Linked DNA regions of Homo sapiens: regions 2, 3 and 4 are each linked to region 1. Evidence: fine-mapped expression QTL. A gene starts in region 1. Each other region holds a variant in brackets. All regions are shown on one strand. Distances are between the middles of the regions. Region 1 holds the start of NOP14-AS1 (NOP14 antisense RNA 1). Region 2 overlaps ADD1 (adducin 1). Region 3 overlaps ADD1 (adducin 1). Region 4 overlaps GRK4 (G protein-coupled receptor kinase 4).

Region 1 (8,104 bases):
TGAGCCTTCTCACGAAGCAAGTGGCTCACGGCCTTTCGTGCCAAGTTTGTCTGGGAAAGAGGGGTTCTGTTGACGTTTCTGGCTGTGAGGAGCACAGGCTATGGTGACCTCCAACTCCCCAAGTCCCCTCCTTTCAGAGAGTGCTCTCAGGGGCCAGCCCACGGCCCTCCCTCTTCAAGAAGACAGTGGCTTTACTTCGTTCCGGCTGTGCCAGGACTTGAGCAGCCACAGCCTTGGCTTACCCCCCCGCCCACCGGTAGGCGCACAGCAAGGGCACCATCCTGCTGCAGGGAGCTCGCAGCACTGTCCTCACGCTGCCTTGACACCACAGAACCCGTGCGTGGAGCTCAGGGCACGCAGCAGGTGAGTCATCGCAGAGTCGGGGATTTCGTGTTTTTCAGGAGCTGTGTCAGAGCACACTGACCGAAATGGAAAGCCAGAAGCAGCTCTGCCGGCCGCTGACCTGTGAGAAGAGCAAGCCTGTCCCACTGAAGCTTTTCACACCCCGGCTGGTCAAAGTGTGGGTGCTGGCAGCATCTCCCTGGGAGGCCAGGGCTGTGGGCTCAGTGGGAGCTGACGGGGGGCGTCTGCCAGTTCTGCAGTTGAGCAGATGACTACGGAGTGAAGCCACACTCCCAAGCAGGCTCTGGCTGAGAGGTGGGGACAGACTCTTGCTTCCTTAACAGTGGCTTTCTGGTTGTAGCCTCGAGTTTGGAAGAAAACAAGGCAGTAGTAAGGAGGAACAGGAAAGGAAGAGGCTGATCCACAAACACAAGCGTGAATTTAAAGGGGCCGTTCGAGAAATCCGCAAGGACAATCAGTTCCTGGCGAGGATGCAACTCTCAGAAATCATGGAACGGTGAGGGGGACGTGTGTGTGCGACACGATTGTGGTGTCACTCAGCTTTGGTGCTGTGTGGCCCTGGGCAGAGCACCGGGCACCTGGCATCCCACAGCCTTGGCTCTGGCTGGGGGTTGGAGCCAGGCAGGTTCACTTCCCCCTGTTTGAACTGAACGTGGCCACGGTGGCTAATGTGGTTCTGATGTGGGAGAGAGAGGGCAAGATGCTCTCCAAGAACTAATCCAAAAATGGGCATTTGCCTTTTGTTTCTTTTAGGGATGCGGAAAGAAAGCGGAAAGTAAAGCAGCTTTTTAACAGCCTGGCTACACAGGAAGGCGAATGGAAGGCTCTGAAGAGGAAAAAGTTCAAAAAATAAATTACATTTTATAAATAAGGCAAGGAACTGGACATTACCTCACATCTGCAATTCCAACCCTCTGGGAGGCCAAGGCAGGAAGATTGCTTCAGCCCAGGAGTTCGAGACCAGCCTGGGCAACACAGGAAGACCCCGTCTCTACCAAAAAAACATAAAAATTAGCCAAGTGTGGTGGCACGCACCTGTAGTCCCAACTACTCGGGAGGCTGAAGCAGGAGGACTGCTTGAGCTGAGTCCAAGGTTACAGTGAGCCGTGATTGAGCCACTGCACTCCAGCCTCGGCCACAGTGCAAGACTGTGTCGCTTAAAAAAAAATTTTTTTTTTTGAGACGGAGTTTTGCTCTTGTTGCCCAGGCTGGAGTGCAATGGCACAACCTCCACCTCCTGGGTTCAAGCGATTCTCCTGCCTCAGCCTCCCGAGTAGCTGGGATTACAGACATGTGCCACCACGCCCAGCTAATTTTGTATTTTTAGTAGAGACGGGGTTTCTCCATGTTGGTCAGGCTGGTCTCGAATTCCCGACCTCAGGTAATCCACCTGCCTTGGCCCCCCAATTATAGGTGTGAGCCACAGCACCCAGCCAAAAAAGTAATTTTTTTTAGAGTAATAATGCTATAATGTTGGTGTGATTCCAACCTCCAGCTCCCCCCACCCGCTGCCTGCGGTTTTGTTTCTGTTAAAACGTCACCTGATGAAATAGAATGAATCCTGAAATGCACCTCTGGGATCGGGAATGGTCTGTGTGTTATCAGCTGCGACTGGTTCACTGCGTCTGGACAAGCCTCATGGGGACTGGGGATTCTGGCCAGTGTAATTTCTGTCAACCACGGACGTTTGCCTTCATGTGTAGAATTTACTGTTGTTATGCAAATTATATTTTCAATTATAAATGAAACAAGTTTGCAGATATTTTAGAAATCAGAGAAGGGAAACATCACCCACAGTCCCTCTGCTGGAACAGCCACAGTTGGCCTTGTCCTACTTACGTCCTTCAGTGGATGCTTCTGGGTGCTGGGGTTCTCCATTCAGGACACTGCACTCTCGGAGGTGGGAGGAGACTGGGTTGCGTCTGTGCCGACCTGGGATGCAGTTTCAGGTCAGAATCAGAAGATGTGCAAGTTACGCATGACACAGCTTTTTAAAGTGCTTTTCCCCTGCACTAATCAAGAGGGAGGTCAGCCCTCAGGTGTGCTGGACCCGGGAGGGACTGTGAGCTGTAAGAAGTAACGAGCCCCTTGAACTTCACAAGCTGGCCAGGGAGCCATATCCCGAATGCCACTGCCACTTCCTCGTGGTGCAAGGCTTGTTGGGACCTGCCACCTTGCTGAGGGAGGTGCTGAAGTAGGTGGTTTCCCTGTTCCAATGCGGTATGCGGTCTTGCAGGCCGAGGCATTCCCCAGGGGATGACGGAGCCCCCGCTGGGCTACAAGCCAGGGCAAACACTGAACTTGTGTCCTTAGCCGGCATCCCAGGAAAGAAGGCCGGGGTCAAGTTCACACCTCATGAGATCACAGTGACCAGCCCTGCCCAGGCTGCCCTGGTACGTGCCTGAAGCATCGCGGAGGTCACATCTAGCCACGGTGACCGTGGTGAGATGTAAGGATTAACCAGACTACGACTGGGGAGGTGAGGAAGGTGACAAGGACCCAGTTCCAGCTTCTAACGGGGTGTGGGATCTTTGAGCAAGGAAGAAGATGCTAGGGAGAATGAGTCTGGCTTTGTTCTTGTTGGGAGGTGTTCAAGCCATGGCTGGACCAGAGCATGAGCCATCCTCAGTGTGAGAGGCAGTTACTGCCGCGGTTGGGCTGCCTGGTAGGCCTGGAGCTCAAAATGAGTCAGTCTCTCTCTGGAAAGCGCAAGACAGAGACAGCGCTGGTGGCAGCTGGGCTGAAGCCAGCAGCTTGGAGATGAGGCTCAGGCCCTGACGGGGGAAATCTTACCCAGCCTCCCCAGATGGCTCAGAGACAGGTCTGGCAGGTGCACGGATCCACAAATCTAGAAGAGTCTGGGGTTGTCACATCCACCAACTAGGCTGGCTGTCTATATACACTTTGTCACTGTGTAGGCCCAGGATTTCACCCATCTACAAATTTTCTCTGCCACACGGCTACTGCCACTTTAATTCACCAAGCCAAGCCTTTGCACTCAGGACCCTGGCCCAACCCTCTTTGGCCAAGCAAAGAGGAAACGAGAACAGGACAGAAAAAAAAGTGGGACCGGACCAGGCACCTGGCTGTCCATTGAGGCCTTGCTATGCGATCCAGGACGGAAGGTGCCGGCAGCAAGCTCATACACTCTAGCTGCGTGTCATGTCATTGAAGAGGGCGCGTGATCCAGCTGGAAGGGTGGATAAAAGTGTAACTGCCCAGTGGGTTCACCTTCCCTGTTACCTAGACAGCCAATTTATCAAGAAAGGGCATTTGCAACAGAGAAAAGGTAATTCACGCAGAGCTAGCTGTGTGGGAGACTGGAGTTTTATTATTACTCGGTCTCCCTGAGCATCTGGGGTTTGGAGTTTTTAAAGATAAGCTGGTGGGTGGGGGGCAGCCAGTGAGTCAGAAGTACCCATTGGTCAGGTCAGAGATGAAATCACAGGGAGTCGAAGCTGTTTTCGCACTGAGTCAGTTCCTGGGTGCCACAACATCAGATGAGCCTGGGTGGTGCCAGGTGACCCACCAAGTGCTGATCTTAGGCTTTACGATGGTGATGTTATCGCCAGGAGCAGTTTGGGGAGGGTCAGAATCCTGTAGCCTCCCGCTGCGTGACTCTTCAACCGTAGTTTCTAATCTTGTGGCTAATCTGTTGGTCCCACAAAAGCAGGCTAATCCCCAGGAAAGGTTTCCTTTGGGAAAGGGCTGTTATCATCTTTGTTTTAAACTAAGTTCCTCCCACAGTTCAACCTGCGTGCAGCAGTAAACAAGGAGGGCATGGAGGTTAGAAGCAAAATGGAGCTGGTTATCTCACTGTCGGCAAATTTTGCAATGGCAGTTTCATAGAGATGCCTGTCCTCTGGGAAAAAAGCTAATAACAGGTTGTCTTTTTGGCTGCAGGTGGAAAACTGCATCTATTAGGAAGAGGTGGGGCTTTGTTCTTACCCACAATTGGAAGTTCTCTATGGAGTAAAGGCGGTATGTGTGCCACCTGATTCCTTTCCCCATGTGTATCTGGTTAGGGTCGGCCACGTGAGATCCGCAAGCATTTTAGAAGGTGGGAGGGGAGGTGGGAGCTGGCTACAGGCCAGGCGTTGGCGTGGTTCCGTGAGTGTGCTCCAGCCAGGCCCAAAGCTTCTCCTGCCCAGAGGGACCGTTTCCTCCAGCGTGGGTCGGGTGCTTCTGCGCCCGGAAAGAGCGCCAGCTCCTCCTTCGGGTGACCCAGGGAGCGGGGCTGCAGGCAAAGGCGCAGGCGGCCAAAAAGGTGCCAACCGGGTCCTGTGGCTTTCAGTTGTCTCTGCCCACCCAATTCACACCATCTTTCCCCCTCAGCCGCCTGTCCTGGGACTTCAGGCTCAGCACCAAACGCAGCAAAAGTAGGTGCACAGAGAGCGGGGTCAGCTCACGCAGCCCGAGCAGAATGGCTGTGCTGCCGCCCCAGGCCCGCGGCCACCGCTGTGTGTGTGGCAGGAGTCAGCCCCCCAGCGTGGGGCCCCGAAGCCCGCGGTCCTTCCACGGGGAGGGCCAGGCCCGCAGGGCGCAGACGATGGGGGACAGGCTGCGCCAGCGCTCGCCTGAGGCCCCGCACACAAACCTCAGGCCCATGGGTCCGCTCCGCGGGGCAGGCGTCGTGGGCCCAAGGAGGCCAGGCCAGGAGTCTCGGCCTCGGGGTTACGCGGCGGCGGGCAGCTCTTCCGCTCCGCTCAGGGTGCTGCTAACCCACAGCCAAGCAGCGACCCGCAGGACCGGCGAGAACCCCGCCACTGACTCCGGCCGGAAGAGAACGTGCAGAGATGTACGTCACTTCCGGGGCGTGGCGTGGCCGGGCGTGGCCGTCCCGCCCCTGGCGGCGTGCCTGGTGCCCTGTTCCGCGTCTGTGCGACCGTCCGTCCCGAGCGCGCAGCCGCGGCAGGTGCGGGGCGGGACCGGGGGCGCCCGGGGTGGGGGGCGTAGGGGGCGCTCGGGTTGGGGGTGGGACAGGGGACGCGCGGGGTGGGGGAGGAGACGGGACCCGGGGTACGCGGGGGTGGGGCGGGTGAGAGGTGCGCAGGGTAGGGGAGTAGGGGGCGCGCGGGGTGTGGGGCTGGACCAGGGGCGCGCGGGGTGGGGGCGGTGGGAGGCGCGCGGCGTGGGGGTTAGAGGGCGCGCAGGGTGGGGGACGGGACCGGGGACGCGCAGGGTGGGGGGCGGGACCGGGGGCGCGCGGGGTGGGGGCGGGACCGGGACGCACGCGGGATGGCGGAGTGGGAGGCGCGCGGGGTTGGGGGTGCTCCTGCGTCCGGTGTGCACCCCATGGCCCCCGCCAGGGAGACCGAGTCCGGGCCAGGGGCCGGAATCGCGGGGCGCGGGCCGGGGCTGGGGTTGGGGTTGGGATCGGGATCGGGATCGGGATCGGGATCCGGGTTCCCCGCGGCTTCAAGTTTTCTCTCGCTGTTACGAGGGCGTGGGAGGCGCGGCCGTGGGGTGGGGTGGGGCCAGGTCCGCGATGTGCTCACCCTGGTCTCTCAGGACCGTTGCCTTTGCGGCTATTTTTTGTGCAATCCCCGAAGCCTGCGTTTCCTGCTGCCTGGGTTCGGGGCGGGGGCATCGCGCAGGCCAGAACGGCCCCTGCGTCCGTAGGCCAGAGCCCCTGCCATCAGCCCCTTTAGGGTGCTCGCCGGCTGTCGGGTGTGGGGGTATGCCAGGCCCCGGAGGACTCGGCTTCCCCGCTAACCCGACCCGCCGCACCCCACCCAGGCCAGGTCAGAGCAGCCCACCATGGGATGGGGAGGGGGTGGAGGCTGCACCCCGCGCCCACCCATCCACCAGCAGCCGCCGGAGCGCCGCGTGGTCACCGTTGTCTTTCTCGGCCTCCTGCTGGACCTCCTGGCCTTCACGCTGCTGCTGCCCCTGCTGCCCGGGCTGTTGGAGAGCCACGGCCGTGCCCACGTGAGTCCTTGCCCTGCGGCCCACAGTGCCCCCTGCCCCCCAGGCCCATCAGACCTCCCCAGCCCTTATCGTGATTCCTCATCCCCTAGGACCCCCTCTATGGCTCCTGGCAGGGCGGGGTGGACTGGTTTGCCACCGCCATCGGGATGCCAGTGGAGAAGAGGTACAACAGTGTCCTGTTCGGAGGTATGGCTGGCTCTGTGCCCTTGGCGGGCTCTCTACGGTCCTATGTTTGGTGGACGTGGTCCAGCCCAGGCCCCTCCCCAATTCTCGGTCCTTGCCTTCCCACTCCCTGGGCTGGCATGTCTGGTGCCCTTGCCCACATGTCCTGGCTTCTGGGCATGATCCCTTGCCTCCGCGTGTCACGTTCAGATCCTTCCTCATCTCTCCATTGGGGCCCCCTCGGCTCAAGGGCCATGGCCTGTGAGTGTAGGGCCCAGCATGACTGGACCCTCAGGACGGGGCTGGACATTGGCCTTGAGGGCCCCAAGACCACAGCTCATGGTGCCAGGCAGCCCCATGATGGTGACATCTGTCTCTCAGGTCTCATTGGCTCGGCATTCTCTGTCCTGCAGTTTCTGTGTGCGCCACTCACTGGGGCCACCTCTGACTGCTTGGGGAGGCGCCCGGTGATGCTGCTGTGCCTGGTATGTTCCTGGGCCTGGGTGCCCATGGGGAAGCCTCCTCCCACCCAGCCAGTAGCCCCATGGGGTTAGGTGGGGAGAGGGAGGTGGCTGTGGGCCCCTCATGGCCACTGGTTGGCCCTCATCGCATCCTGGAGGGGGTTCTCGGGGGACCAGTGGCTCCTGTTCCAGAGCCAGGCTTTCAAGGAGCTGCTCCTGGCCCCTAGGAAGGCACTGAGAACGCAAGTGGCCCTCAGATGCTTCGAAATAGGGCAGGGTTGAGGGGTGTTGTCTGGGTTGCCAAGCCCTACTCTGAGCCACTCCTGGCCTTAAGCGACCGCCCCTGCCTCTTGGCCCCTGCCCCTGGGCAGATGGGTGTGGCCACCTCATATGCAGTCTGGGCCACCTCTCGGAGCTTTGCGGCCTTCCTGGCCTCCAGGCTGATTGGGGGCATCAGCAAAGGGAACGTCAGCCTCTCCACGGCCATCGTTGCTGACCTGGGCTCGCCTCTGGCCCGCAGTCAAGGCATGGTAAGTGCACAGGCTGGGCCTTTGGGGTCCTGGTGGTGACTTCTGGGCCTGGGTCTCCCTGTGCAGCTCGGGTGGTCTTTTCCCTAGGCGGTCATTGGGGTGGCCTTCTCACTGGGCTTCACCCTGGGCCCTATGCTCGGAGCCTCCCTGCCCCTGGAAATGGCACCCTGGTTTGCCCTGCTCTTCGCAGCCTCCGACCTGCTGTTCATCTTCTGCTTCCTGCCAGAGACGCTGCCCCTGGAGAAACGGGTAGGGCTGTGGTCTGGGACCCACAGGCCTAGGGGCTGGAGGCTTGATTCCATAGCGATGTAAAGTGCCCCTGTGTGCCAGCCCCAGATGCCAGGGAGGCTGGGCCGCTCTCTTGGTGTTGGGACCCTTGAGGCCACAGTCCGTGGGTTGCCAGGCCAGCAGCCGCTCCTGCAGGCTCTCCAATGCCATCCCCACAGGCGCCCTCTATCGCCCTGGGGTTCCGTGATGCGGCTGATCTGCTCAGCCCCCTGGCCCTGCTGCGCTTCTCGGCTGTCGCTCGTGGCCAGGACCCACCCTCTGGAGACAGTAAGGACTCGACCAACCCAAGCGTGGAGCCTGCTCTCCCCTGGGCTTCCCCGGGCGGCGCCCTTCCCTGCTGTGGTCGCCTTCTCAGCACGCGCCACCTCT
Region 2 (8,104 bases), 77 kb after region 1:
AATTTCTGAAGTCTAAAAATTCCAAGTAAAGCCTTGTACAGTGGCTCACAACTGTAATCCCAGCACCTTGGGAGGCAGAGGTGGGCAGATTGCTTCAGCCCAGAGTTTGAGACTAGCCTGGGCAATATGGCAGAACCCTAGCTCTACCAAAAAAAAAAAAAAAAAAAATTAAAAATTAGCTGGGCGTGGTGGCATGCACCTGTAGTCCCAGCTACTTAGGAGTCTGAGGTGAGAGGATCACTTGAGCCTAGTAGAGGCTGTAGTGGGCCATGACCATCCCACTGCACTCTAGCCTGGGTGACAGAGTGAAGCTCTGTCTCAAAAAAATTCAATAGGCATGACAGTACTGAGGTAGAGGGGAGAAGCCACACTCCAGAAGTCTCTATAGTTGGGTCATGGAGAGAAGTGGCAGATCCCATGCAACTTTTCAAATGCAACTGGAGCAGAGTCAAAGGATGACAATCATTTTCATGGAGTCAGCACTCAGTCACCAAATATCTACCAAGCACTAACTGTGAGGCTGCTATAGACCAGGCATTGCTCAGCAATCCACATTCTCAGGGGACATCAATGAACAAAACAAAGATTTCTTACATTCCTGCAGGGAAGCCAGGCAATAAACATGATAAATAAGTAAATCACACAGTCTGTTAGAAGGCGACAAGTGCTATGGGTAGGGAACTGGGAGTCCAGGGGGTGGGGAGGTGAGTCACATCATTAAGTAGGAAGAGCAAAGGAAAGCTCCCAGAGAAGGGGACAGCTAAGGAAGGACTCACAGACAAACAGGTGGTGAGAGCACTAGGCCAGGTGGCCATATATCCAGAAAGGCACTCCAGGCAGAGAGAAAGCTAGAGCCAAAACTCCAGGTAAGAACTGGCTTTTGTTTGGGAATGGGAGAGGGGAATAAGGCTGTCTGTTTATCATCTCCTTTCTTTAAGCATTGAGACAGTTCAGTTACATTTTGGTTAATAAGCAAAGATAAAAAGAGGCTAAGAAAAGAGCATCCTGTTTAATTTTAAATAGAAAACTAATGTCAGGGGTAGGATTTGAATCTACAGCTCCTAAAACCCTGGTTTGAACCTCTGAGACCCATTCAGTGAAGCTAGTTTCAATTCCTTCTGAGCGCATTCACTTTACCAGCTCTCAGCAGCATCTGGCACAGCTGCTCCCACTTTCAGGAGTCACTGTCCTCTTCCAGTTTTCAGACATCAGTTTCTGGTTTTCCTCCAACCTCTCCAGCTACTGCTGTGAGTCTCCCTTGCTGTTCTACCTCTTCTATCCAACTTCTACCTGCTGGGCTGCCCCAGTACCCTGAGCTGCTTGTCTTCCCTAGCTATACCATTGCCTTAAGCCAGGGGTGTCCAATCTTTTGGCTTCCCTGGGCCACACTGGAAGAAGAATTGTCTCGGGCCACACATAAAATACACTAACACTAATGATAGTTGATGAACTTAAATCTCATAATGTTTTAAGAAAGTTTACGAATTTGTGTTAGGCTGCATTCAAAGCTGTCCTGGGCCACATGTGGGCAACAGGTTGGACAAGTTTGCCTTAAAGGATCACACTGATCCAGGCCCATCCTTGGCTCTAAATACCACCTCCACCAGTGGTTCTCAGCCCTCGTCATACATTAGAGCCACCTAGATAGATTTAAAACAAACCATGGCTAGACCCAAACCCAGACCCACAGAATCTGAATCTCTAGGAATGGAGCTTGGGCATGAGCATTTTTAAAGGTGAGTCAAATGTGCACTCACAGTTGAGAACCACTGATTTATATACACTAATGGGCCCCAAATTTTTATCTCTAGCCCTAAACTCTTCCCTGAGGCCAAACTTGTATGTCCAAATGCCAACAAAACATCTGTTTGAATATTTAAAGTCTACTCAAACCTAACTTATTCAAAATAAGACTCTTAATCTCTAGTCTTGTCTCTCTGTATCTAAACTCATAAACTCTTAATAATTCATTCTCCATAAAGGTATTAATATATTTAAATGTCGCACCCTACTTAATTTGGGAGTGGTAGCTCATGCCTGTAATCCCAGCACTTTGGGAGGCCAAGGACCACTTGGGGCCAAGAGTTCAATGGCTTCCCACAGTCCCTAGAATAAAATCTGCACTCTTGACCCCAATATGCAGGGGCCTTCCCATTTTGGCCCCCAGCCCCCACGCTCCCTTGCTCACCATTTCCCAGACACACTAGTCTCCCTTCTGTCCTCAAACACTCCCAGCCCCTTCCTGCCTCAGAGTCTTTGTACTTGCTGTCCTCTCTGCCTAGAACAAAGAATTTATTCCAGCTACTTTGAATGCCTTAGTCCTTATCAGTTAGGCTGCAGGTCAAATTTCAACTGGAAATTTTGAAGTTTGCTTCCCTGCCCACCCTATTTAGAATAGTCCCCACTCCCAGCTCTCTCAAATCACCCTGGACTTTTTGTGTTTTCTTACCCTTCAAAGTACTTACCATCACTATCAGGGCACAGACTCTGGAGCTAGACTGCTTGAGTTCAAACTCCAGCTCAGCCACTTACTGACTCTGTAATTTTGGCAAGATTTCTTAACTTCCCTGGTGGAAGTTTCCACATTTGAAATATGAGTTTAACAACAGGTTAATGCATGTAAAATGCTTAGAATAAGTGCCTGACAAATAGGAAGTACTTAAGTGTTAACTCTTAGTATTACTGTCAGAAATAAACTATCTCCCCTAGTATAATAAAACTCCCAAGAGGACAAGAAACTGGTCTGTCTCATTCACTACTGTATTCACAGAGCTGTCACGTAATAGTCTCTCAATTAATACATATGGAAGAACAAATACATTTCCAGATCTAACATTTTGGACTAACAACGCTAATCTAAGTTTTGTTTCTAGAGGCATATGACTAAGAAAAACCTTTGCTTTGCTTCATTCAATCACAACTGACGTCCGACTGAAGAGACCCTTGGAGTACAGCAACAAACTAAAACACTCCAAATTTCACTCACAAGTTCGCCACTCACAAGGAAATTCCAGACTGCAAATGGACAATCTGCATATCAAATTGGGTTTTGTATCTCTGAATTAAGAAGGTCTTATGTTTCCAAAATCACGTCAATTCCCAAAGTTGATAAAGCAAACGTAGCTAGTATGTCTGCCTCTAGATGACTCGATTTGGAGACTAAAGCTCACACAAACAACTCCCAGAGGTAGGACAATAAGAAAAGAAGAAAAGGAGATTTCTAGACCTCAGGGAAGTTATAACTAAGTGAGCATGGTACCTGCTCACTTTATGAAACCCCATAAAGACTGCAGGAAGACTCAGCTAAGTCAGGAAGCACAGGTTGACCAGACACATCAGTATAGAAAACTCTACGTAAGATTTTATAAGGAAGGAAAAAACCAACACTCTATAATCTAATTAAACACGTAAGGAGGGATTAACAGTACTAACCTGAGAATGTTTCTCCTGAAAAAAAAAAAAAATGGAGCAATATCAGGGGAACCATTTAATAATTATAAAACAGTAAGATGGAAAAGTATGTCATTATAAAGTGATCTTATGAATAACGCAGCTGCTGAATGAAATGGCAGCAAACAATGTGTCTAAAGTGGTAACTGCTTGAAGGTTAAGCCTGACACTGGAAAGGAAACCTTACAGTAAAGAAAACCTCCAAAATGGGTGAGGATTAAATAAAAAGTTTCATTTCCTTTTGGCTTACATACTCCGAAAAGGAAGCAGAGGCTATCACTAAAATTTCTCTGTTTTGGTAGATGGGAAATGTCTGCTTTGGTTTTGCTTTTTTGAGACAGGGTCTCACGGTTGCCAAGGCTGGAGTGTAGAAATGTCTACTTTATTTGGCATCTCTCTCAGTATGTGAGCATGAATTTTTTTATATGCTTATTTACATTTAAAATTTCCCATGGCCTATGATTTCCTTTGTACACATATCTGTTGAGATCTTGATGTATTTATTTCTACACATCTGAAAAAAATAGTACAGGTATTGACCCTTTTATCATATTTGTCATTCTCAGACTACTATCTTCTATAATTTTATTTTTCAATAAGAAAATATTTTAACATTTTGCATATTTAGGTTGACAAACCTTTTCCTTTGTGATTTCTTCTGGTTTTAAAAAGAAAGTTATCATTCCTTCCCAGGCACACATCTAATAAAATGTTCCAAGAAAATGTTAAGGCGTTATCTCTGATAAACATTTTATTTTGCTTTTTCTCCACAGTGCCTCTATAATTTTAAACATTTCTTTTTAATCCACCTGGGATTTATTTTGATGAATGGTATGTTTTCCAGCTATCACATCATCAACAATCCCTTCTCCCCACAGACATAGAGGCGCAGGGCCCAATGATGCAGGTTTTGACTTTGTACCAGCAACGCCCTACGATCACTTCATAGGCTTATTGTCTTCTGTACTTCAGTTTCCACATTTGTAATAAAATACACTCGGTGATATGTTCCCAGGTTGTTGGGGCAATTAGAAATAATAAATGTAAAATGTCTAGCACAATGTCTGGCACATAGACGTCCCATAATAGTAAATATGTTTATTATTCTTTGTTTGTTGAGCCATGGTCTCACTACGTGGCCAAGGCTGGTCTCAAACTCCTGGTTTCAAGTGATCCTCTGACCTCAGCTTCCCAAACTGCTAGAAATACAGGCATGAGCCACTGCCTGGCCTTGGGTGTGGTTTTGGAAATGACTGAGTGAAGCAACTAAAGATAAGCCAACCATCTGTTTAACTGAACAAATGTGAGTGAACTTTAATGCACCCTATCCTGTTTATATTTCCAAAATCTGTCTGGTATCACTAGTGCAGAAAAGAATCTGGTTTGGGTGTTTATCAAAATTCCACCAGCCTTGCAATGCTGATTAATAAATGTGCTCAATTCCTATCTATGGTTTATAGTCTAAGGCCAGAGAACCCAGGTTCTGATCCCAGTTCACTAAACCGCGTAACCTTAGGCACATTTCTTCATCTCTGTCTATTTCAGTTTCTTCATCTGTAAAATGAGAATCATTATCTACTTCC[T/C]TGGTTTAAGATTAAACGAGTTAACTTATGTCAAGTGTTTAGCACAAGGTACATAGTAAACAGTAAGTGGTAGCTATCACTATTATTATTAGCAGTAGCAGCAATAGCATCATCTTTAAAGACTGACTGAATCTCTTTAAAAAGGACACCAGAAGAACATTCTGTAATGGACACTAATTAACTGTCTTTCTTGGTATTTGCAGGGGGACACATATCTCCACCACATAGTAGAGTTCCCTCCTAGAGGCTGTTATCACGGCTTCGTATGGTCATTTTTTTAATCCAACTGCCAGACTGCAAGCTTACTGAAGGCAAGAGCTATTACAATGCTTTACTTCCAATATTCCTAACACAATGCTCTGAATGCAGCAGATCTTAAATAAATGCTTATTAAATTACTAAAATAAAAAAAAAGCAATGAGACAGAACCTTAGAAGCATGTATTTTCTGCCCCAGAAGGAACTTTAGAAGTCATTTTACAGATGCTAAAATAGAGTTCCAGAACAAAGTAATGATTTTACCAAAGTCTCGTATACTGGCCATACTGGAGTCAGTTCCCCTGTATCATGGAAAACACACCAACACACCTCACTCACTCCCTGGGCTGTCAAACCGTGCACTTTGGAACCAACCTCACACTGAATACACCTTTTGTACATTTTAAACTAGTGCCCAATCACTATTTCCATTTGGAGACCTCAACTAAGGCAAATACTTGAAAATCCCTACCACTCAGATTTTCTTTTTGAGACAGGGTCTCATTCTGTCACCCAGGCTGGAGTGCAGTGGCACAATCTCAGCTCACTGCAACCTCCACCTCCTGAGCTCAAGTGATCCTCCCACCTCAGCCTCCTGAGTAGCTCAGACCACAAGTGCACCCCATCATGTCCGGCTAATTTTTGTATTTTATGTAGAGACAGGGTTTCGATTTACCCACACTGGTCTCAAACTCCTGGGCTCAAGCGATCCTCTAACTTCAGCCTCTTGAGTAGCTGGGACTCTGAGACTGCAGGAGCACCACCACACCTGCTAACTTTTAGAATAAAAGAAATTTAAATTGAATTTTTAGGTCAAAAAATGAGTAACAGCTTAGATACAAAGAGGAATTTGCGAATTAAAACACAGCTTTGAAAAAATTGCCCTGGCCGGGTGTGGTGGCTCACGTCTGTAATCTTAGCACTTTGGGAGGCTGAGACAGGCAGATCATGAGGTCAGGAGTTCAAGACCAGCCTGGCTAACATGGTGAAACCCTGTCTCTACTAAAAATACAAAAAATTAGCCAGGCGTGGTGGCATGAGCCTGTAGTCCCAGCTACTCAGGAGGCTGAGGCAGAAGAATTGCTTGAACCCAGGAGGTGGAGGTTGCAGTGAGCTGAGATGCCGCCACTGCACTCCAGCCTGGGCGACAAAGCAAGACTCCATCTCAAAAAAAATAAAAAATAAAAAATAACAGAATAAGAACGTTGGCTGGGTGTGGTGGCTCACACCTGTAATTCCAGCACTTCGGGAGGCCAAGGTGGGCAGATCACCTGAGGTCAGGAGTTTGAGACCAGCCTGGCCAACGTGGTGAAACCCCATCTCTATTAAAAATACAAAAATTAGCCAGATATGGTGGTGCACGCCTGTAGTCCCAGCTACTTGGAGGCTGAGACGAGAGAATCACTTGAACCCAGGAGGTGGAGGTTGCAGTGAGCAGAGTTCATGCCACAGCACTCCAGCCTGAGCAACGGAGCAAGACCCCGTCTCAGGAAAAAAAAAAAAAAAAAAAAAACTCTAGTAACCATTTACTTGAGTAACATGCAGAAATAATAAATAGGGAACAGTAAATATTCCAAAAGAAAATGGCTGACAACTTCCCAGAGCTGAAAGACATGAATCTACAAAAACCAAGCAAAATAAATAAAGATAAATCCATACCTTACACACATTGTAATGAATATGCAGAATAGCCAAGGCCAAAATAAAGAAAAGAAAATTCTAACAGAAGCCAGAAGAAAAAAAGACAGATCACCTACAAGGGAATAACAAACCGACTACTGCCAAACTTGCCAACAGAAACAACAAAAGTAGAGAGCAGTAGGATAACTCCAAAATGCTGAAAAGAAATAACTGTCAATCTGGATTTCTATATCAAGCAAAATTATCTTTCAAGAACTTAGGTGAAGGTTGGGAGTGGTGGCTCATGCCTGTAATCCTAGCACTTTGGAAGGCTGAGGTGGGAGGATACTTGAGCCCAGGAATTCAAGACCAGCCTGGGCAACATAATAGTAAGACTCGTCTCTATTTTTTTTTTTTTTTTTAAAAAAGAACTTGTGTGAAATAATTTCCGAGTAGCTGGGACTACAGGCATGCACCACCATGCCCAATGGTGGTGCACGCCTGTAATCCTAGCACTCTGGGAGACTGAGGCAGGCAGATCTCGAGTCCCAGAGTTTGAGACTAGCCTACACAACATGGCAAAACCCTGTTTCAACAAAAAAATACAAAAAATAGCTGGTCATGGCGGCATGTGCCTGTAGTCCCAGCTACTTGGGGGCTGAAGTGGGAGGATCACTAAAGCTCAGGAGGTCAAGGCTGCAGTGAGCTGTGATCGCGCCACTGCACTCCAGCCTGGGCAACAGAGTGAGAACCTGTCTCAAAAAAAAGAAAAGAAAAAAACTTGTGCACTCCAGTCTGAGTGTCAGAGCAAGACTGTGTCTCTTTAAAAAGAAAAAAAAAAAGTCTGGACTAAAACACTGAACAACAGCAGCATGTAACTTGAGAGTTGAATAATTGGAATTAAAGAACTTTCATGCCTTTGCTGTATCTAGGAGGGCGACAGAATATTAGTTTTAGACTTCGTTAAATATGCATAGCAAAATTTCAAGGGTAATCACTAAAAGAATATTAAGAGTATGTCATTTCCAAACCAAAAGATGGAAGAATATAAAGAAAAACAAACAACTCCCAGTTGTTTAAAAAGGCAAGCATGGGGAGAAAAGACAAACAGAATACAAAACCTAAGATGATAAAGAAAGTACAAATTTATCTGAATCATAACATAAATGTACTAAATTATGCCAGTTAAAAGAC
Region 3 (8,104 bases), 51 kb after region 1:
TTAGTCCTAAAATTGTTAAAGTATTGCATTTCACATTTAATCTTTAATTCACTGGGATTGCTTTGTGATTATGTATAGTATAGAAGTCTCATATAATTATTTCCACTTGTGACTTTTCTACCCAAGCATCCCAGCAGCCATCATTGCCAAGTCCATCCCCCACCCCGCTGAGCTGCAATGCCGACTACAGCATGTCTGTTTCAATGCATGCAATTTGGCCCTACTGATCCCTCTGCATCTTCCTTTGCCCAAAGGACACTATATTAATTACCACTTTATATTAAGTTTGACATCTGGTAGGAAAAATCTCCTTGCCTAGCTGTTCTTCAGGAGTGTCTTAGCTATTCTTGGCCTTCCGCTCTTCCATCTAAATTTTAGAAGCATGCTGTCAGGTTCCACATTTAAAAAGTATTACACAACCATTTTTGTTAGTCATTTCTCTTTTGTCTCTCTCTCTCTCTCCATATATATATGTACATATTTCATATAGCTGTAAACAGTATATATTTCATATTTTCTCATTTCTGATACCTTTCATTTTTCATATTTCACTTGTTCTACATGATCTTTGTAATTGTTTTTCATAGTATACAACATTTGCTCAAATTGATATTGAATAACTGAGCCATTTCCTATCTACTGCTGAATACTTAAGGACTCTTAAAATTTTTCATTATTGGCTGGGTGCAGTGGCTCACACCTATAACCCTAGCACTTTGGGAGGCTGAGGTGGGCGGATCACTTGAGGTCAGGAGTTCAAAACCAGCCTGGCCAACATGGTGAAACCCCATCTCTAGTAAAAATACAAAAAAATTAGCTGTGTGTGGTGGCAGGTGCCTGTAATCCCTGCTACTTGGGAGGCTGAGGCAGCAGAATTGCCTGAACTCGGAAGGTAGAGGTTGAGTGAGCCGAGATCATGCCACTGCACTCCAGCCTGGGCCACAGAGTGAGACTCTGCCTAAAATAATAATAATAATAATAATAATAATAATAATTTCATTATTACAAATAATGCTGGGCCGGGCACAGTGGCTCACACCTGTAATCCCAGCACTTTGGGAGGCCGAGGCAGGCGGATCGCTTGAGGCCAGGAGTTTGAGCCCAGGCTGGCCAGCATGGTGAAACCCCATCTCTACTAAAAATACTAAAATCAGCTAGTGGCATGGTGGTGCACACCTGCGCATGGTGGCACATGCCTGTTCCTGCTACTTGGGAGGCTGAGGCAGGAGGATCACTTGAACCGAGGCGGCAGAGGTTGCAGTGAGCCGAGATTCCACCACTGCACTCCAGCCTGGGTAACAGAGTGAGACCCTGTCTCAAAAATAATAATAATAATAATAACGCTGTAATTAATAATGTTTCCTTCTTTTACTTATTTTAAGATTTATTTCCAACTGTAAGCTTAACTAACAGATCTATTAATACATACTTTAATTTTAGAGGCTTAAAACATTCAATTCTCTGAATCTAAAGCAAAAAGGAGAAAGTGCAAAATTACAAACATCAAGTAAAAATAGAGAAGGATATTTTGAAGTCAGTTTCCTCTGCAGTTGTCCCTCCCCGTCAGACCAGCCCTGCTCTCCCTGTGTCTCTTCCCACACATGTACTGCCCCTTCTCTGTGTATGAAGAATGAGACTCTCCTGTTGCAGACCAATGCAGTACCCAATTCAGTACCTCCAGAGGAGACCACTATCACGTCCCTGAAGCACAGGGCACTGGTCACAAAGGTGGGTCCAGACCATCACCTCAGAGGCTTAGCATTCTCTGGAATCCAGAATGGAGTTGAACAAGCACCTGCCAGGTTCTGCAGGTGCAAAGCCTTGACAGCATTCCACTGACATCAGAATGGGCAGGCCAAGCCATCAGCTAAGTGCCACCGAGAGAGGAAGCCCAGTCCACTGTGCTAACTGGGCCACCCCGTCTTGTCCCCCTCCCCCCAGCCCCCACAAACACTTCTCCAAATCCAATGCAATCTTAAAGATCTATTTCAGACAATCATCTCCAATCTTCTAACACCTGTTAGCAATTTTAAATCCCTTTAGCAGAAAATCCCTATGACCCCCTTTCAAAGAAAGGGCAGAATGACCTGCTGTCACTTTTTGTTGACACTGTATTTGCTTTTCTGTTAAGCGTCTATACCATACCTAGATAGTAAATAAGAAATGGATGCCATAATAGTAAAACAAAATAAACCAAAACCTTTCTTCCTTAAAGATTCTCTAGTTCTAGTTTATAAGACATAGGAAACATTTTAGGTAACTTGCATTTCTTTTTACTCGGTATTAAGCCCCAAGGAGATAATTTACAGAAAACACTTTTTTAATTTTGCCAATTCTTAAACAATTAAAGGAGGAGAAAACAAGCAATTTAACCAATTCAAACTTATTTAATCAGCATTCAAAATAGGACTAGGCAAACAGCACTTTAAAACCTGCGAAGAAGGTGAAGCTGTTATCACAGTTAGGGTTACGTTTCCAATCACAGCTGTAACATTTTCACCGCACTGATCTTCAGGCAACCACTTAGCACTAATCTCCACCACAGCATTCTGTCAAGTATAATTAGATGACAGAGGCCAGCAATTTCCCTGCAGGCACCAGGAAGGGAGCTGGCATTTGTGCTAGGCTAACTGGACCCACCAATCAAATGTCAAAAGGTCCCAGCGAGCTCTTGTTCACAATTTCACTGAGGTAATTTCAGTTCAGCCGGGGGTTTCATTCAGTTTTTCACCTAAGTTTACTGCATGCCTACTCTTTGCCACGGGTCCTGGGGCCACAGCAGGGACCACAACAGACGCTCTCCCTGTGGAATTTATATTCCTGTGGGCAGAGAGGGACAGCAACAGCTAAACATACAGAATGAATGGGGGTAACTGCTACAGGGGAATAAAGCAGCGATGACATTCTACACAGAGTGACCGTGCCGCACACAGGAGCATGACATGGTAAGGCTTACATTTTGAAAAGTTCATTTAAGCGGAAACAAGAACAGATGGATAGAAGGCAACTCAGTCTCTCTGGCAGAGACCAATATCAAGTCCCAGAGGCACAACACACTAATCACAAGGTGAGCTCCAGACCGTCACCTCAAGAGGCTTAGCATTCCTCTGAGTCCAGAATGGAGCTTAACGAAGCACCGCTGGTTATGAGTCCATGTGCAGAAAAACCCATGTGTGTGTGAGTATGGAGGAAACATTTCAGCAACGTGAACAGCGCACACACTGCTTGCCTCAAGAGAGATGGAAGTATTGGTGGAATTACTTTTTCTTTAGACATCTGCATAAGGTACACTTGATACAAAAAGCAGGCACTGTATTAACAATTTAAAATATCCTTTAAAAGAAATTACATGAAAAAAACAGAAGACTGGAACAAGTTTCAAAACCAAAGGAAGGAAGCAGTTCAAAGGAAGAAGCTATCTCTACAAAAGAGTGAAGGAACAGAAGAACCCTGGCAATGCACTGTGAATCTAACAAGGCAGGAAGGGGCCGGGCAGGGTGGCTCACGCCTGTAATCCCAGCACTTTGGGAGGCCAAGGCGGGCGGATCACAAGGTCAGGAGAT[C/G]GAGACCATCCTGGCTAACACGGTGAAACCCCGTCTCTACTAAAAATACAAAAAAATTAGCCAGGCGTGGTGGCGGGCGCCTGTAGTCCCAGCTACTCGGGAGGCTGAGGCAGGAGAATGGCGTGAACCCGGGAGGCGGAGCTTGCAGTGAGCCGAGATTGCACCACTGCACTCCAGCCTGGGCAACAGAGCAAGTCTCTGTCTCAAAAAAAAAAAAGAAGGCAGGAAGGGTGGAATTCCAAGCCAGGTGAGCAAAGTCTGGCCACAGGCAGAAGGCAAGACATTATAACAGGTGGTCAAGAGTACAGAATGGCTACAAATGTCAGTAAGGGTACCCATTTTTTCTGTGACATGATGAGGTCATTTGGTGGAAGAAGGAGGTCAGGAGTCTCAAAGATAGTAGAGAAGGCTTAAATATTAGTAAGGTTGTAAGAGAGATGAGTTATGGTTGCCAGGCTAAGTCATTGGCCCATTTGAGATTTGGGTTCTGAATCTATGGAGAAAGGTAATGGGCTCTGGTGGGAGGACTTCCACAGCAGGATTTCGCTACTCAGAAGCTGGGAGGGAGAGTACAGGATTGGCAGAGTATTGCTGAAATGAGGGACTATGAAATACAAGATGGACAAAATAGGGAGTGAAGAATAGGCTAATGGATTGGGATGAAGAAGTGACTGTCCACAAGGGAAGGACTCATGTTGTCCACTGACACAACCACAGTTAGAACAGCGCTTGGTCCAGAGAAAGCAGATACCCAGAATGAAGGAAAAGAGATCCTAATAATGTTGAAAAATAGTTAAAACTAGAGTAGCTGAAGAAATAAGTTTGAGAGACGGAAGGCTTTGGTCAGACTAAGAAAGAAAACATCATCATTCTTAGGTTTTTAAGCATAAAAATAATTTTAGAAACTGCATATAATCTGGTAAACACTTAGTTGTTTTATTAGGTTAGCACGCAAGAAAGAAATTTTCAAGAACTGCTGTTCCTGTAACTTTTAACCCAAACTGGCTGATTCTCAGGTTATTACACTCTGTAGTCAGGAATCAGAAGAGGTATTCCAAGACTTACTGAAGCTCAGCCTGCTTCCCTCTTCTCCTAAATGGAAAGAGGTGGTGCCAGACACAAAATATTTCATTTATCGTTCAGTTACTAGCCCATTTAATACTCACTGTGATATGATTGTAGATAAGCTGAGACCACCCAAAGAGATCTGCTAGTCTATAAAACGCTGCCAATTTACACCGTAATAACTTCTCTCCTTTGTCATACGCAATAGAATCAGATCCTCTAAGATCGTTCACAGGAGTCACCATACCAAGACCTGAAATAAAGAAAAACAAAACTCAGCCAGGTGCAGTGGTATACGCCTGTAGTCCTAGTTACTCAGAAGGCTAAGGCAGGAGGATCACTTGAAGCCATGAGTTTGAGGCTGTAGTGCTTATGATAGCAGCTGTGAATAGCCAAGGCAACAAAGCGAGACTTACCAAAAAGCCTCAAATATTAACATTTCTTATCAAATGTAAATCAAATACTAATGGTTCTGAGATATTTATCTTCCACATTAGACAATAAAGTCTTGAAAACTTCAAAGACAATTTCATAATGACTGTTTTCCAATACTTACACAATTAAGTTAGAAATCAATAACAAAAAGATAGCCAAATTTGTGGCGTGCAGTAAAGCAAGCTTAAAAGGAAATTTACAGCATTAAACGTATACATTAGAGAAGAAAAGTGTTTTTAAGGCTTTCTGATTAAAGCAAAAGTTGAATCTCTGAGAAGTTTAAAAATAAAATACAAATAATAAAATAAGATAAACCTCTAGCCAGACTTAACAAAAGAAAGGAGATAGAAACAACCAATATGGGCTGGGCGCGGTGGCTCACGCCTGTAATCCCAGCACTTTGGGAGGCCGAGGCGGGAGGATCACAAGGTCAGGAGATCGAGACCATCCTGGCTAACAAGGTGAAACCCTGTCTATACCAAAAATACAAAAAATTAGCCAGACGTGGTGGTGGGCGCCTATACTCCCAGCTACTTGGGAGGCTGAGGCAGGAGAATGGCGTGAACCCAGGAGGCGGAGCTTACAGTGAGCCAAGATCACGCCACTGCACTGCAGCCCAGGCGACAGAGCAAGACTCCATCTCAAAAAAAAAAAGAAAAGAGAAAAATTAGCCAGGCATGGAAGGCATGGAGGATCCCTTAAGCCTAGGAGTTCAAGGTTGTAGTGAGCTGTGATCGTGCCACTGTACTCCAGCATGGGTGAAAGAGCAAGAACTTATCTCTAAATAAATAAATACACAAAACAAACAAACAAACAAAAAAACATAATTCACCATAACAAACTAAAGAAGAAAGACTAAGGGATCATTTTAACAGAAAGAAAAGAAGCATTTCACAAAGTTCAACATCCATTCAGAAGGAAAGTTCTCAACAAATCCGGATAATAACTGCAATGATGTGAAACACACTGACTATGTTTAAATCATAAATTCAAATAATACTAAAAAAAAAAAAAACTAATTGTTCATCACTGAAGGATGATTGGAAACCAACTTATTATTTCGGAAAGGGATCCTGCCTTTCCTACACAAACTGTATCACCAGGTAACCAAAAGAACTGAAGGGAAGTTTCTCCTGACAGAACATTCTTGCTAATTAATACAGACGAAATGGGCCAGGTGTGGTGGCTCATGTTCGTAATCCCAGCACTTAGGGAGGCTGAGGCGAGTGGATCACTTGTGGTCAGGAGTTTGAGACCAGCATGGCCAACATGGCGAAATCCGTCTCTACTAAAAATAACAAAAATTAGCCAGGTGTGGTGGTGTGTGCCTGTAATCTCAGCTATTCAGGAGGCTGAGGCAGGAGAACAGCTTGAACCTGGGAGGTGGTAGTTTGCAGGGAGCTGAGATCATGCCACTGCACTCCAGCCTGGGAGACAGAGCAAGACGCCGTCTCAAAAACAACAACAACAAAAAAAAACGGAATCCACATGAAAACTTTCCTAGTGGTGGCCATGTGATTTCAGGATGGAGGTTTGAGCTATGGATTAAATGTGACTCTTAATATTCTGTAGACATTAATTACAATATATATCAGATCTGTTGAATGCTATTCAACTTCTAAGAATACCACAGAGCAGACAGGTAAATAGCAAATGTCAGCAGATCTAACAGAAACCAGTACCTTATTTCGGGCAATCAGATTTGACTATCCAACCAGACCCATCAGAGACTAATCCAAGGTACAATATGCAGTGGCTCAGATTAGTTGATGCTTTGTCATGTTAACATTTGCAAACTCAATTGCCATGGCAAAGCTGCATTCTTGCACAGCTGACCATTCTTTGCTCACATTCACCCATCCAGTACTTTTCCTCTGGCTTTTCTTTTAGAATTTCTCTTTCTCACTAGTTGGGACACAGCAGTGAAGAATGCTAGGTAAGAAATGCTGGCCAGGCAAAACTGATGTGCTACTCCACAGCATTATTTCTATTAGTTTATTTTAATCTACATAGGGGCTGGGAAGACACATAAAAAGTCATCTGCCTCGGAAATAAAGTCTCACTGGCTAAGAAAAGAGGAGTCTGCAACATTCAAGATGATTTCAGAATTCCAGCCTATCTTTTACTATGACTAACGAAAACACATTAATTTTCAAAATACTCAACTCTGTTATGTTATACAGTTAAATGCCCACTTATTTCACATGAGCAATCTTCAGGAAATTTTACCTGAAAACTACAGAACATATATTAAAAATCAGGAACTACTCACTCATGTTTAAGGCAGCCATCCCTCCTTGCGGAGCTGCTGGGTAGACATTTGGTACATTCGTGGTCATAAAATCTGCAATCTGCTGTAATGCCAATAGGCCTGTGGGGTTCTTCCCCTTCTTAAATTGCTCCTGTATCATTGATTCCAATTCTTCACAGAAAGCCTAATAAAAAATATTAAAACACTGAGATACCATTTATTTTCTGTTCCTTGGGCAGGGGGTCAGAAGTAGCTATCACATAGACCAATTTTTGTTTTCATCCAGTGCTGGAAAGGCAAACGGATATTCTCACACATTACTGCTGAGAATATAAACTGGTACATTCTTTTCTAGAAAGTAATTTAATACAATAAAAGCTTAAAACTCTGAACAGGAATTCTACTCTTAGGAATCTATTTTAAGGAAACATTCAAGGAAGTGCTCAAAGACTGATTCATTTGTATGTTCATTCCAGTATTATTGATAAAAGGGAAAAACATCCTACGTTTCAATCAACAGAGGACTGATCAAATACACTGGGAATTCTACGCATGCATTCAACATGAAAAGCTAAAAAAACTTAAATGGCATAAAATTGCTCTTGATATATGTTTGAGTGACAATGTTATCAAGCAGTATAACCAGTCCTTATTACAGCAAATACATACCTAAACATAGAAAAAGATTAAAAGTAAATACATTGGCTGGGCACAGTGGCTCATGCCTGGAATCCCAGCACTTTAGGAGGCGAAGGCAGGTGGATCACCTGAGGTCAGGAGTTCGAGACCA
Region 4 (8,104 bases), 66 kb before region 1:
AAGCCAGATAGAGAGAGAAAGCCTTGTTTTTTATTTTTATTTATTTATTTATTTATGAGACAGAGTCTCGCTGTGTTGCCCAGGCTGGAGTACAGTGGAGTACAGGGGAGGCTCATTGCAGCCTCCACCTCCCAGGTTCAAGTGATTCTCATGCCTCAGCCTCCTGAGTAGCTGGGATTACAGGCGCACACCCCCAGGCCTGGCTAATTTTTGCATTTTTTTGGAGAGATGGGGTTTCTCTATGTGGGCCAGGCTGGTCTTGAACTCCTGGCCTCAAGCGATCTGCCCGCCTCGGCCTCCCAAAGTGCTGGGATTACCGGCGTGAGCCACCGCGCCCGGCCTGTGTGTTATTTTAGAGGCAGCCGCATCATTAAAGCATCAGGGTCCAGCCCCAGCCCCACTATGCTCGGACTGCACTGGCTCAGGTGCGCCACTCCCTGCCACATGTGAGCTGCAACGGCCTCGCCGGCTCATCTCCTGGACCCCATCTTCCCTCTCTTTAACCTCTAAGTTGCACCCAGAGCGATCTTTTTAAACACAATGCATATGTCATCTGCTTGCTCTCAGAGCAAAGAATAAACTTTCTCATGGCTCCCTGGGCCTCCGTTTCCTCCGCTGTGACATGAGTGACTGTCTGCATGCATACACAAGGCACTGCAGATTTTGGGCCTGATCACCTCAGAAACTGTTCTTTCATCCCGCATATGTAAAGAAACTGAATTTAGCCAAAGTGCTTTACCTCGGAATTCTCCTTGGAAATGCCCTGAAAAAAGATGTTTTTGGTGAGTACCTAGGTCTGAAAAAAATCTTTTTGTCCTAGACACAAGCAGAGCAGAGAGGGCCTGGAGTCACCACAGGGATGCTAGGATACTGGTGCTAAACGATGGGACCCCCTTCAGTGTGCCTCGTGTGTACATGGAATTATTACTCTTCATTCACCTCTTTCTAGAGGAAGTAATCATTTTAATGTGTAAAGTACAGTTGACCCTTGAACAATGCGGGTTGAGACGCCAGGAGCCACTTATGTATGTATTTTCTTCCGCCTCTGCCACCCCTGAGACAGCAAGACCAGCTCCTCCTCTTCCTCCTTCTCCTCAGCCTCCTCAACGTGCAGATGACGAGGATGAAGACCTTTATGATGATCCATTTCCACTTTATGAATAGGAATTATATTTTCTCTTCCTTATGATTTTCTTAGTAACACTTTATTTTTTCTAGCATACTTTATTGTAAGAGTATAGCATATAATACATATACAAAATATGTGTTCATCTGCTGTTTATGTTATCAGTAAGGCTTCTGGTCAACAGTAGGCTAATGGTAGTTAAGCTTTTGGGGGAGTCAAAAGTTACACACAGATTTTCAACTGCGCAGAAGGTTGGGTGGTGTCAGCGTCCCTAATGCCCATGTTGTTCAAGGGTCAACTACACTCTAGGAACTTGTCTTATGCAGAGAAACCTCCTGAAAGCTGTCTGTTTTGGGGTTAGTCATAGATAATATATGCAGGGCTCAGCATGAACCACTTACCTAGTACATTCCTCAAAGGCTTTTTTGGAAGGGTTCTCCTCCTTCAGTCCCAATCTACATTCTGTCACAACATCTGGAGGTATTTCTGGTAAAGGGGCTGCCAACTTAATACAGTACAAACCAAATACATAACCATTAGTGATTTCATAACTTACTAGTGAACAGAACCTAATGCTTATTGTAAAAAAATGAAACACAAAGTGTATAAAATGAAAGTCAAAGTGCCACCTGGACCCTCCACCCCGTCCCACTCTCCAGAGTTCTGCTGTTGTCTGCCTTTTCAGATCTTCTCCGATGCATATCAAAACACACACAGGGCCAGATGCAACGGCACACGCCTGTAATCCCAGCACTTTGGGAGGCCGAGGTGGGTGGATCACCTGAAGTCAGGAGTTTGAGACCAGCCAACATGGTGAAACTCCGTCTCTACTAAAAATACAAAACTATTAGCCAGGCGTGGTAGGTAGCTACTTGGGAGGCTGAGGCAGGAGAATCACTTGAACCTGGGAGGCGGAGGTTGCAGTGAGCTGAGATCACGCCACTGCACTCCAGCCTGGGCAACAAGAGTGAAACTCCGTCTCCAAACCAAACCAAACCAAACAAAAAAACACACACACAGAATGGAAAGCAGGGTCTCAAACAGGTATCTGCACACCCATGTTCATTGCAGCATAATTCACCATAGCAAAAAACAACCCAGGTGTCTGTGGATGAATGGATAAATAAAATGCAGTATATATACACAGTGGAATATTATTCAGCCTTTTAAAAAAAGGAAATTCTGAAATACGCTACAACTTGGATAAACCTTTTGGACATTATGTTAAATGAAATAAGCCAGTCACGGCCGGCATGGTGACTCACCCCTGTAATCCCAGCACTTTGGGAGGCAGAGTTATGTGGATCAGTTGAGGTCAGGAGTTCAAGACCAGCCTGGCCAACATGGTGAAACCCTGTCTTTACTAAAAAATACAAAAATTAGCCAGGCGTGGTGGCAGGCACCTGTAATCCTAGCTACTCAGGAGGCTGAGGCACGAGAATTGCTTGAAGCTGAGAGGCGGAGGTTGCAGTGAGCTGAGATTGTGCCACTGCCCTCCAGCCTGGACGACAGAGCGAAACTCCATCTCAAAAATAAATAAAGAAGCCAGTCACAAAGTGACAAATCCTGTATGATTCCACTTATATATGGTCCCTAGAGTAGTCAAATTCATAGAGACATAAAGTAGAATGGTGGTTGCCAGGCGCTTGGAGAGAACTGGGAATTGTTGAATGGACGCAGAATTTCAGTTCTGTGAGATGAAAAGGTCGGTTCTGGAGATGGGCTGCAGAACAGGGTGAATATATTTAACACTACTGAAGTGCACACTTACAAATGCTGACGTTGGTAACCTTCATGTTACGTGTTTTTTTATCACAATTAAAATTAAAAATCAAACACACACACCTCTTCAGATAGTTTCTTTTTCCTCATGCAAATGGGAAAAATATATGTTCAGTTTTGTGGTTTTTTTGGAGACAGAAAATCTCGGCTCATTGCAGCCTCCACCTCCTGGGCTCATGCAATCCTCCTA[C/A]CTCCACCTCCCAAGTAGCAGGGACTATGGGCGCATGCCACCACACCTGGCTAGTTTTTTTGAGATGGAGTCTTGTTCTGTGGTCCAGGCTGGAGTGCAGTGCATGATCTTGGGTCACTGCAAGTCCCGCCGCCCAGGTTCAAGCGATTCTCCTGCCTCAGCCGCCCAAGCAGCTGGGATTACAGGTGCCCGCCACCACGCCTGGCTAATTTCGAACTCCTGACCTCAAGAGATCCTTTGGAAGTCTTCAGCCTTCCAAAATGCTGGGATTCCAGGTGTTAGCCACTGTGCCCAGCTGCACCTAGCTGATCTTTGTATTGTTTGTAGAGACAGTGTTTCACCACGTTGCCCAGGCTGGTCTTGAACTCCTGAGCTCAACTGATCTGCCCACCTTGGCCTACAAAAGTGCTAGGATTACAGGCATGTGCCACTGTGCCCAGCCTGGGTCCAGTGTTTAAAGTATGTGCTGACGTCTATAGAGCTACCCCACTTTCTTGAGTGACTGCACGGTCTCCCGGTGTATGAGTTTATCTGCCCCCAGTTACATCCTAGTTGCCAGTTTTCCCACGCAAACAGCACCACCGTGAACGTCTCTATACATGTGTATTTCTATAGGATAGATTCCTAAACACAGAGTTACCAGCTCAAAAAGATGCAAGCATTTTAAACTTCATATTTATTGTGAAACTGCCCTCCAAAGAGGCTCTGCCACTCTGTATTCCCACTCACAGTGTTCCAGGTGCCCAGGCCCTGCTCTCCTTAACCCTCATCCAGAGAATTCTGGAAAAAGGAAACACATGACAAAACCACTGTCCAGATTCAATGAAAAAATACCCAAGTCATGCTCAATTGTCCACCTAATTTGTAATTAGAAACAAGAAATGCATTCCAGACTGATTTCTGACTGTGATAGGGCCAAGCGACCAGAGGAAATCTGTGTTTATAAATCAGTTATTTCCTAACATAAGTTGAAAGATAGTAAACAATAAGAAAACTCACATTTTAAAAAATCAACAATATTATCACAATTAATCATGATTAGTAGCTGCCATTTAAATTATCTAATACATTTGAGGCATTTCAATAACTATGGTCTCGGGCGGGCGTGGTGGCTCACGCCTGTAATCCCACTACTTTGGGAGGCGAAGGAGGGTGGATCACCTGAGGTCAGGAGTTCGAGACCAGCCTGACAAACATGGTGAAACCTGTCTCTACTAAAAATACAAAAATTTAGCTGGGCATGGTGGCAGGCACCTGTAATCTCAGCTACTCAGGAGGCTGAGGCAGGGGAATCACTTGAACCCAGGAGGCAGAGGTTGCAGTGAGCCAAGATCACGCCACTCCACTCCAGCCTGGGCTACAAGAGCGAAACTCCATCTCAAAAAAAAAAAAAATATATATATATATATGTGTGTGTGTGTGTGTGTGTGTGTGTGTATATGTACTCACACACACATATATACATATATATGTATGTGTATACATACATACATACACACATATATATACATATATGTATATATATACACATACACATATATACATATATATACACATACACATATATACATATATATACACATACACATATATACATATATATACACATACACATATATACCTATATATATACACATACACATATATACATATATATACACACACACACACACATATATATATATATATAGTCTCATTTAGCCCTACAACCACCACCCTGATGGATGAGGAGAGACTTGGGAAGTCCCTCTCCAGTGCACCTGCATCACCAAGGGGAGAGCCAAGACTGAAACACACACACCCTGCTGGACTCTCCAGTCCTTTCTTTCTATGCAGCAAGGCTGTCATAAGAATAAGATCGGTCCATTCATTTTCCTATTTAAGAAAAGAAGTTTGGGCCAGGCGCCGTGGCTCACGCCTGTAATCCCAGCACTTTGGGAGGCTGAGGTGGGCAGATCACGAGGTCAAGAGATCGAGACCATCCTGGCCAACATGGTGAAACCCCATCTCTACTAAAAATACAAAAAAAAAATTAGCTGGGCATAATGGCACGTGCCTGTAGTCCCAGCTACTCGGGAGACTGAGGTAGAAGTATCATTTGAACCCAGGAGGCAAAGGTTGCAGTGAGCCGAGATTGTGCCACTGCACTCCAGCCTGGTGACAGAGCAAGACTGTTTCAAAAAAAAAAAGAAAAGAAAAGAAAAGAAAAGAAAAGAAAAAAGAAAGAAAAGAAGTTTGTTCATTCACTCATTTGCTCCACAAATATGCATTGTTCCAGGCACTGGACACAGCAGAAAACAAGACAAAATATTCTCAGAAGACAAAGACAATATTTTAACAGTCATTTCCCCTCCAAAGTCTCAATTTTTCTGAAACTAAATAGCAGGTTGATTCTATCAAGACCGTTTAATGATTAACACCAAATAGTGTTCCCATTTTCTATATCATAGAAAATTTTTATATTAATAGTTATTTATTCTCACACAAAGGAAAAGCAGTGTTTCTAATATCCATGAGAGAGAGGGAGGTAAGCTAAGGTGACCTGAAGTATGGCAAGGTAAGGTACAGAACTACCAGCCTGATGCAGAACTGAGACTTCTGGGGCTTTACATTAAGGATCAATCATTGTTTTTCAGAATAAGTAGTTACCAGGGCAAATTTACCAAATGACTTAGTGCCTTGCTTTTTAAAATTTTAGGCAGAGGAAATTCTAATAGGAAAGACCACTGGTGGAGAGGGAAGGGAGGGTGGATTTTGCAGAAATATGCTTCTTTTTCTGTGTTGAAAATTACATTTACTTTCCTATTTTAAAAAATTGGGTCATCTTTTTATTGTTGCATTGTAAGAGTTATTTATATATTCTGGATACTAGACCCTTACCAGTATTTGATTTACAAATCCTTTTCCCCATTCTGTTGGTTATGTTTTCACTTCTTGATAGTGTTCTTTGAAGCATAAAGTTTTAAATTTTGATGAAGTTCAGTTTATCTATTTTTTCTTTGTTGCTTGTGCTTTAGGTGTCATATCTAAGAAGTCACTGCCTAATTTCAAGGTATTGAAGAGTTACACCTACACTTTCCTCTAAGAGTTGTATAGTTTTAGCTCTTATATTTAGGCCTTTGATGGATTTGGCATTAATGTTTTGTTTATGGAATGAGGTAGGGCTTCCGTGTGATTCTCTGCATGTGGCTATCCAGTTGTTCCAGTACCATCTATTGAAAAGACTATTCTTTCTCCCAGTTGAATTGTCTTGGCATCCTTGTGATAAGGCAATTAATTGACTGTTAATGTGTTATCGTTTGGATGTGTGCCCCAAAGTTCATGTGTTGGTAGCTTAATTCCCAATGCAACAGTGTTGAGAGGTGGGACCTTTAAAAAGGTGATAAGATCATGAGGACTCTGCCCCTCAGGAATGGATTCATGCTGCAATCTCAGGACTGGTTTTGTTATTGTTGCGGCATTGCGGCAGGTTCCTGATAAAAAGCTAAGCTCAGCCCCTTCCACCACTCCCCACCCAGGCGTGTGCATACCCTCGTATTCTTCTGCATGGATGATGCAGCAAGAGGGCTCTCACTAGATTGGACTCCTTGACCTTGGACTTCCGGCTTTCAGAACTGTAAGAAATAAATCTCTGTTCTTTATAAATTACCCAATCTCAGGTATTCTGTTAGAGCAGCACTAAATGGACTAAGACAAAATGCATGAATTTGTTTCTGCACTCTCGATTCCATACCATTGACTGCTGTATGTCTACCATCATGCCAGGACCATACTGTCTTGATTACTGTAGCTTTGTACTAAGTTTTGAAATTGAGGAGTGCGAGTCCTCCAACTACATTCTTTTTAAAGAATGTTATAGTCCACGTCCCTTGACTATCCATATGAGTTCTAAGATTAGCTTGCTTGTTAATTTCTGCAAAAAAAAAAATGGTAGTTAGACTTGTGATAGGGATTATATTGAATCTATAGATCAATTTGGGGAGTACTGCCATCTTAACAATATTAAGTCTTCTGATCCACGAACAGGAGATGTCTTTCCATTTCTTGAGATCTTCTTTAATTTTTTTCAGTGCTTTCTAGTTTTCAGAGTATAAGTGTTACACTTATGTTGTTACGTTCATTCTTAAGTATTTTATTCTTTTTTGATACTATACAAAGGGAATTGCTTTCTTAATTTCTTTTTTTTTGGATTTTAATTGCTAATATATAGGAATACAATTAAATTTTGTATAGTGACTTAGTATCTTGCAGCCTTACCAGACTCACTTATTAGCTCCAACAGTCTTTTTCTTTATGTGTGTATGTGTGAATTTCTTAGAATTTTCTATATCCAAGATTATGTCATTTGCAAATAGAGTTTTACTTCTTCCTTTACAATCTAAATACCTTTTCTTTTCTTTTTTTTTTTAAACAGAGTCTTGCTGTGTTGCCCAGGCTGGAGTGCAATGGCACAACCTTGGCTCACTGCAACCTCCTCCTCCCGGGTTCAAGCAATTCTCCTGCCTCAGCTTCCAAGTAGCTGGGATTACAGGTGCCTACCACCATGCCCAGCTAATTTTTGTATTTTTAGTACAGACGGGGGTTTCACCATGTTGCCCAGGCTGGTCTCAAACTCCTGACCTCAGGTGATCCACGCGCTTTGGCCTCCCAAAGTGCTGGATCACAGGTATGAGCCACTGCGCCTGGTGAATACCTTTTATTTCTTTTTCTTGCCTAATTGCCCTGTCTAGAACCTCCAGTACAATGGAACTTACAGTTGACCCTAGTTGAACAGAAGTGGTGAGGGTGCACAATCTTGTCTTGTTCCTAATCTTAAAGGAAAGCATATAGTCTTTTACTTTTTTTTTTTTTTTTTGGAGATGGAGTCTCACTCTGTCATCCAGGCTGGAGTGCAGTGGTGCAATCTCAGCTCACTGTAACCTCTGCCTCCCAGGTTCAAGTGATTCTCTTGCCTCAGCCTCCTCAGTAGCTGGGACTATAGGCGTGCACCACCATGGCCGGCTAAT

The links.
Region 2: its variant is fine-mapped to the expression of NOP14-AS1 in whole blood (TOPMed, PIP 0.93).
Region 3: its variant is fine-mapped to the expression of NOP14-AS1 in lung (TOPMed, PIP above 0.99). The same link has a PIP of 0.9 or more in testis.
Region 4: its variant is fine-mapped to the expression of NOP14-AS1 in whole blood (TOPMed, PIP above 0.99).

What each region holds. Positions count from the first base shown.
Region 1 is chr4:2,931,943-2,940,046 of GRCh38, reverse strand. It overlaps NOP14-AS1 (NOP14 antisense RNA 1), which reads right to left and starts at 4,501. Exons shown (of 4, transcript NR_015453.2): 1 at 1,905-4,501; 2 at 1,255-1,354. It overlaps SLC75A1 (solute carrier family 75 member 1), which reads left to right and starts at 5,222. Exons shown (of 13, transcript NM_001146069.2): 1 at 5,222-5,278; 2 at 6,103-6,294; 3 at 6,384-6,480; 4 at 6,838-6,941; 5 at 7,289-7,447; 6 at 7,535-7,696; 7 at 7,894-8,002. The coding sequence starts at 6,124. It overlaps NOP14 (NOP14 nucleolar protein), which reads left to right. Exons shown (of 18, transcript NM_001291978.2): 16 at 402-520; 17 at 704-859; 18 at 1,117-2,111. The coding sequence ends at 1,216. RefSeq lists enhancers at 2,253-2,672, 3,143-3,382, 3,185-4,384, 5,642-6,509, 6,602-6,731 and 2 more and silencers at 4,773-4,882, 5,043-5,352, 5,582-5,801.
Region 2 is chr4:2,855,284-2,863,387 of GRCh38, reverse strand. All of the region lies in intron 1 of ADD1 (adducin 1), which reads right to left. Among named protein-coding and RNA genes, the nearest start is that of ADD1, 15 kb to the right of the region's middle. RefSeq lists enhancers at 1-525, 526-1,238, 1,320-1,399 and a silencer at 3,581-3,650. The variant T/C (reference allele first, on the strand shown) is at 5,034.
Region 3 is chr4:2,881,292-2,889,395 of GRCh38, reverse strand. It overlaps ADD1 (adducin 1), which reads right to left. Exons shown (of 16, transcript NM_001354761.2): 3 at 7,336-7,498; 4 at 4,730-4,881. Among named protein-coding and RNA genes, the nearest start is that of ADD1, 42 kb to the right of the region's middle. The variant C/G (reference allele first, on the strand shown) is at 3,564.
Region 4 is chr4:2,997,758-3,005,861 of GRCh38, reverse strand. It overlaps GRK4 (G protein-coupled receptor kinase 4), which reads right to left. Exons shown (of 16, transcript NM_182982.3): 5 at 1,528-1,631. Among named protein-coding and RNA genes, the nearest start is that of GRK4, 38 kb to the right of the region's middle. The variant C/A (reference allele first, on the strand shown) is at 3,099.